2 linked regions of the Homo sapiens genome follow. The protein of the gene in region 1 interacts with the protein of each later gene in a pairwise test. Each region holds a gene or a part of one and is shown in the gene's direction. Other genes may lie near its edges.

Evidence for each region.
Region 2: the proteins of NCK1 (region 1) and WIPF1 interact in binary tests that used the Homo sapiens proteins (3 or more experiments, as listed by UniProt).

Annotation. Positions count from the first base shown.
Region 1 is NC_000003.12:136,921,208-136,924,707, forward strand, and holds part of NCK1 (SH2/SH3 adapter protein NCK1), read left to right. Parts: intron 1-3,500. UniProt on the Homo sapiens protein: Adapter protein which associates with tyrosine-phosphorylated growth factor receptors, such as KDR and PDGFRB, or their cellular substrates. Maintains low levels of EIF2S1 phosphorylation by promoting its dephosphorylation by PP1.
Region 2 is NC_000002.12:174,587,805-174,591,304, reverse strand, and holds part of WIPF1 (WAS/WASL-interacting protein family member 1), read left to right. Parts: intron 1-3,500. UniProt on the Homo sapiens protein: Plays a role in the reorganization of the actin cytoskeleton. Contributes with NCK1 and GRB2 in the recruitment and activation of WASL.

The DNA of each region.
Region 1 (3,500 bases):
ACTCCCCTGTATATAGATAGCCAAACTACCAGTCATGTATGAGAGAACAAAATCACTTTCAGATATGCATTCTAAAAAATTTAATTCCAATATATTTTTAACTCAGGAAACAACTAGAGGACGTGCTCCAGCAAAATGAAGGGTAAAGCAAGAAAAAGTAAGACATAGGATCTAGGAAGCGGAGGAACTGTGGGCAGTAGTTCCAATATTGGTTTCATTTTCTAAACTTTTGCTGTGGTATTTGCATCTTTGCTTTATGCAGGGATGTGTGGGGCTTGAGTGGTGTTTATATTGTACTTCATTTCTTAGTGCCTTTGTGATGCTTCTTTGGATATTCTATGCATGTCCAATTTGGGAGAGCCCAGTACTTGTGTTGGTCCATAACTAGAATTATAGATGTCGAAGATAAACTGGACACTAGTTAAAATGGTAAGGACAGATTTTATTCAGTAACTATTGCAGTAGGGAAGAGTGTCCAGTGTGAACTCAACTCACTTTTGCCAAAACAAAAGGGGAAGAGACTTTTTTAAAGGTTGAGTATGCTAAGGGAAAGACACTGCTAAGGGAAAGAAAGATGGTTTTTTTGTTTTGTTTTGAGACGGAGTCTGTCTCTGTCACCAGGCTGGAGTGCAGTGGCGTGATCTCAGCTCACTGCAGTCTCCGCCTCCCAGACTCAAGCAATTCCCCTGCCTCAGTCTCCTGAGTAGCTGGGACTACAGGCACGCACCACCACGCCCAGCTAATTTTATTGTATTTTAGTAGAGACGGGGTTTCACCATGTTGGCCAGGATGGTCTTAGTTTCCTGACCTCGTGATCTGCCTGCCTCGGCCTCCCAAAGTGCTGGGATTACAGGCGTGAGCCACCGCGCCCGGCCACTGAGTGGTTTTTAAGGGCAATAGGTGGTCCATGTGAGTAGGCCATCTGGGTTTGTTATTGGCATTTATCTGGAAGAGAAACAAACTTATTATTTATGACAGGAGGTGGTGGTACAAATTAGGCCCACCAATGTTTGGCCCTTACCCTCTCGCCAGGGACTGGGAACAAAAGTGAAAGTTATCTTTTTGATTGTTTGCATTCCAAAGAGGTAGTTCTCAGGTCCTTGGGAAGATAGTTCTTGATGGTAGAAGATTTAAGTCACAAAGGGACAGAGAAAGGATTTATAATTTCAAGCTTTCTAAGGTAACTGCTCTAAATGGGGGTTCAGGTGACCATCTGCCTATCACCAGGTTTTGGCTGGAACAAACGGTAAATTCTGGCCATGTGGAGCCTTTTCAGGTAAGGAACTTGATGGAGTTGGAGTCATTATTCTAGGATATGGGGAAAAGATATGAACAAGCACTTTACACAGAAAAACAAATGTAAATGTCCCTTAAATATGGGAAAAGAAATCACTGTAATAAGAGAAATACAAATTACAACTCTGAAATACTATTTCTCCCCTATTAGATTGGCAAAAATCCAAAAGATTGACAACATAGTTTGTTGGCAAGGCTGTGGGGAAATAATCACTGATATATTGTTAGGAGTTTTTAAAAATAGTTTATGAATACAGAATTTAGCAGTATCTCACAAAATTATACAAACTTTAGCTGTAACTCAGCATTCTTCTATGATTCTAACCCAAAGGTACACTAACAGAAAATCAAAATGACACATGTATGAGGCTGTTCATTGCAGCACTATTTAATCCCAGAAAATTACAAACAACCCATTGACCATCAGTAAGGTCTAGTTGAAGAAAGTGCTACTTACATAATGATGACGCACTCTGCAATTGTTAGAAGTAGTAGATGTATTAGTAAAGGAAGTCTCATGTGCTGCTGTGGAATGATCTTAAGGATAGATTGTTAAACTGAAAATGAAAAGATTCAGGCAATATAGTCTATGCCTATGTGTATGTGTGTGTGTGTGTGCGCGCCTGTGTGCATGTGTGTGTGTATGTTTTGTTGTGGGGGTAGATAAAAATTAGAATTTTCAATTTTCTTATATATTTTTCTTGAATACTTTCCTTAAATTATTTAAAAAAAAATAGAAACATAAACCAAAACAAATAAATAGCTGTCCAGGCCGGGCGCGGTGGCTCACGCCTGTAATCCCAGCACTTTGGGAGGCCGAGGCAGGCGGATCACGAGGTCAGGAGATCGAAACCATCCTGGCTAACACAGTGAAACCCCGTCTCCACTAAAAATACAAAAAAATTAGCCGGGCATGGTGGCGGGCACCTGTAGTCCCGGCTACTCGGAGGCTGAGGCAGGAGAATGCCATGAACCTGGGAGGCGGAGGTTGCAGTGAGCCAGGGTCGCTCCACTGCACTCCAGCCTGGGTGACAGTGCAGTGCGAGACTCCGTCTCAAATAAATAAATAAATAAATAAATAAATAAATAAATGGCTGTCCAGTGGGGTGGATGGGAGAGGGGAGAGAAAAGAGAAGGTATGGAAGAAGACCTCTCTAAATGTTTTAAATATGTTTGATATTTAAGCATATTTAATGTTTAAACATTCATATAAACAATATTAAACATAATGTTCAAACATGTTTGATATTTAAACATCTACCTTGCTTGATAGTTTAGCTTTTAGAACCATCCAAATGTTTTACATAATTATGAAACAATTACATTTTAAAAAGGGAAAATAAAGTGATCTTCAAAAAATGAAAACAAGTGAGCCTAACTCTACGTCCAGTTGGTGTCATAACCACACAGAAGTATATATTCTACCTTTTCTGTAAGGTTTTATGTTTTAGGGTAATAGAACAATAAGCAAAATTTTCCTTTGAGAATAATCACAGTTTCTGAAAGCAGGTAGAGCTAGCACATCATCATTATTGAAATAGTTGATCTAGGCAGTGATCATCAGTGGCAGGTAAAACCATTGGGTAGAGGTTTGATGGGGGAACTTTATAATAATGGATAAATCAGTTCAGTGCTACAAATCTACCATTCAGTCTTAACATCACAGAAAATGGTTCAGGCAGACATAATGTGCCTCCTAATAAATGGCAATAACAAGTACACAAGAATACTTAACGAATTATTCTTGCAACAATGACAAAACAACCTAGAAAAAGTAAAGCCTCTAGAAATAATTACCAGTTTATAGGAGATAGGGGGGATAGAGGAACACCATGAAAATATACACTAGCCAAATTCACGATGTGGGAAATGCTACAGGACAAGTGAAGCCAGCTTCTTAAATAAATGACATAGAGTGGGGAAAGAGAACAGTGTCAGAGACTTAAAACATGTTAGCTTAAGTGCAATATATCGACTTAGTTTGGATCCCAGTTCACACCAACTGTAAGAATGTTTAAAAAAATACACTTAGCAAAAATTGAATATTAGCATTAGATGAAATAAGTGTTGCAGGAGTTCTTAATAAAGGAACACCTTTTCAAAATGAGCTTTTGAAAATATACTGATAATTTAATTTTAGTATAATTGACTTGTTTGCAATCTTATATATTTTTATGCATCAGAAACATTGTGAGTAGAGGTTC
Region 2 (3,500 bases), on another chromosome or scaffold:
GCTAGGACTGCCATAATAAAATACCACAGCCTGGGTAGATCAAATAACAGAAATTTGTTTTCTCCCAGCTCTGGAAGCTGGAAGTCCAAGATCAAGATGTGGGCAGGTTTGGTGTGTTCTGAAGCCTCTTTCCTTGGTTTGCCACCTTCTCACTGCGTCTTCACTTGAAGACTTTCCTCTGTGTGAGCACATGCCTGATGTCTCTTCCTCTTTGTATGAGGACACCAGTCAAATTGGATTAAGATCTCACCCAATGGCCTCATTTTAGCTTAATCACCTCTTTAAAGACCCTATCTCCAAATACAGTTGCCTTCTGAGGTCCTGAGGGTCAGGAATTCAGCATATCACTTTTGCAGGGGACATAGTTCAGACCGTAATACTGTATGTGAAAACAAAAGCCTTTTCTGTCCCTTGAGTTTTCTTTGTGTTTGTAGAAGTCAACACACCAAGTAAAGATTTTAGAAAGTCTGGCTTTTCTATCATGAAAGTTACTTAACATTGAAATTATTCTTAAAAAGAAATTAATTCTGAAAAGTGTGACTTCTTAAAAGTTCATTGCTTGGGTTGGGGTGGGGTAGGAGGGCAAGGCCCAGCAAGTGGGTAGGCATGTGATCCGACACTACTGAGAGCCCAACTAGTCTGGGAAGCCGGACACAGGCACAGCAGATTCTGATGCAGGAGATGACTGACCACACTGGGAAACTGCTGCTGAGTCCCTTCCCTTCTTGCGTCTCTCCTGCACCCGAATCAGCTGCCTTTCCTGCCATGCTCCCATCTCCAAGGGAAGAACCAAATGCTGGGAGGCCCAGTCATCAGTCAGCCTCATTCCCACCCAGGCAGATCCACCCACAGCCACTGAGCAAAGCTGTGGCCCCTCAGACTAGCCTCCAGGTCCATCCCTCCTCTGCCAGGCACTCAGCAGCTTGTACCAGCAGGACCCATCCTCACCCTCTGAAGGACAGAGCTAAGCCCTGTCCACTGACAGCTTTGCTCCCCCAGGCCATGCTGAAAGCCTTGCACACACCATTTCATTTAATCTGCTCAGCAACTTCCCATTTAACAGATGGGAAAAACAAATTCCCATCTGAATCTGCCAGGTGGCAGAGCAAGGATTCAGAACCAAATTTGCCTGACCAAGGTCTCATGTTCTCCCTTTTTCATTCTATAAACCCACTGGTAAAGCCCAAAGGACTCCTTTTTTTAAAAAATTTAATTTTAATTTGTTTTTATTTTATTTTATTTTATTTTTAGAGATAAAGGGCTCACTTTGTAGCCCAAGCTAGTCTTAAACTCCTGGGCTCAAGCAGTCCTCCCACCTTGACCACCCAAAGTGTTGGGATTATAGGCATAAGTCACCACTCCCAGTCCCAAAGGGACCCTTTTGTGTCTACGTTTAAATGCATAAAATAAAATACAGAGAATTACAAAGGAAACTAATTTATTAAAATATGTACTTCTTTATTAATGGTTTAAACAACAAGATCTAGCAATGGATCTAAACGTTGCCAGCATGTTGAAAATTGTTGGTGTGTAGTTGTAATATGATGTGAAATATCACGTGAAAACTATGGGTGAAAGAATATCAGATATTATGGTTTGTGGCCTGCATTCATAATCAAAGGAAATGCTACATTTCAGTTAGTGCTTAGTAGAAATAATATGTACTTTTTTTTCATACAAGTTCATGAACCCTTGAATTCTATCCACAGACTCTGGGTGTGAGGATCCAGGCAGGAATGCCTGGTCTGTTAGGATCCGTGCTCTAGGGCCAAGGCCTTCAGTAAGATCTGGCTGTGGCTCTGATGTGGGCTGTCAAGTCCATGAGAGGAGGGAAGCCCTCCTCTCCCAGGGCCTTGGGGCTCTACTTCTCTGGGGAAGTTGGAGGCTGCCAGGAAAGTAAGTTCCAGTCTGCAACACTAGCAAGCCCCTCTGAAATAGGGCTGATTCTTTTGCCCAGATCTCACAGTGCGGTGGGGTGATGCTGGGAGCCCTTCAAGTGGCAAGCACTCGGCTTGTTTGTGTGATACACAGTTCTTTCACTGCATATATATTTAGTAAGAACCCTACTTTGTGCCAGGTATTGGCAAGACCCCATGGAGTCCATAGGCTGGTGGAAAGACAGCCAAGAAGTGGGCCTGGTGTGGCCGGTGGGCCCAGTGTTGGGGCACACGAGCTTGGTCTTTGATCCAGGGGCTGAGTGAGGTGGCAGTATTGGAGTCTGGGGTTTCTCACACACTTCCCTTGAGGCCCCAGCCTGGAGAAGTCCAGACCGTGCCCAGCAGTTGTTCAGCTAGAAGGGAGGAGAGAGGACATGGCAGCCTCCCTCATCTGTGTTACCATTGAGATTGGAAAGGGACAGTTAATCTGGAGGGGAGTGAGAGATGGGGCCAGGGAAAGCAAGCCATGCAAACAAGTTCGCAGAGGAAGAGAGGAAAGAGCACTTAGTTCTGCATCACCCTCTAAAAAGTGAGAGCCCTCACCCGTAGACCCTCTCCCCACTGTCCATCTGAAGTGGCCAGGAAGGAAAGGCAGCACTTCTTTCAATACCTCAGACCCTTTAATAGCATCTTGCTCCCTGAACCTTGTTTTTGCCTGCTAATTTCTGCAATCTGGCCTTGGCTCTGGCCCCAGCCATGACTGTTGCCATTTCTCCCACACTAGCCCTCTGGACCATGAAGTTAACACGCCCTCCCTGGAGCTGTCATCCAGAAGTTAATATACAAGTCAGTTAGTGCACAGACAGTACTAAAACAGCAGCAACAGAGAATTGTAAAATAATTAAGGAGGCCTTTCAGGGTGGCAGCCCCTGAAAGGGTCCCCATTCCACAGTCTGCCCCCTAAGCTGTGCAGGACAGAAGTTCAATTTGATCTCTGTTACGAGAGCCGAACTCATGACAACCATACCCATAAGAGGTTCCTGTTAGTTGACCAGAATATCCACCCTTTCCTAGATATTAGGATCACAGAATGACAGAAAGTTAATCGGTGAACGTGGAGTCAGACAAAATAGTCTTGAGGGATTTTTCATCAACCAAGCACGTGGATGCACTGTTCCCACAGCCCATCTCTTGGGCCCACCGGGCAGACCAGGCTATCCCCCTTCCTTGGTAAGCCTTTCCCAACTCTGATCATACCATTGATTTGGCTCCAGCATCTTTCGCAGTAGTCAGGCCTGAATCAGATCCCTTTCGTTCCTGCTGGTCCTAGGAGACGTCTGACTCCAAGGCCTCTGAATGTGCCGCTGGAGATGCCCCTTGATGGAGGACCCCCTAACACAGGCACCCAGTCCTGCTCACAATGCCCATGTGGCCCTATGGGTGACTAATTGATGTCATGCCAGAAAGAGCAATTTAAGAAACAGACTTTAAAAGAATCCTTGCCTGAGACAGTCTCTTACTGAAAACAGATTCCAGCCTAGTTAACAGGTGAGCTGTGGCACTAATTCGCCTGCCTGAAAGTGTTTATCAGACCATTAAAAGGGCAGTGAGTGAGTGAGGCAG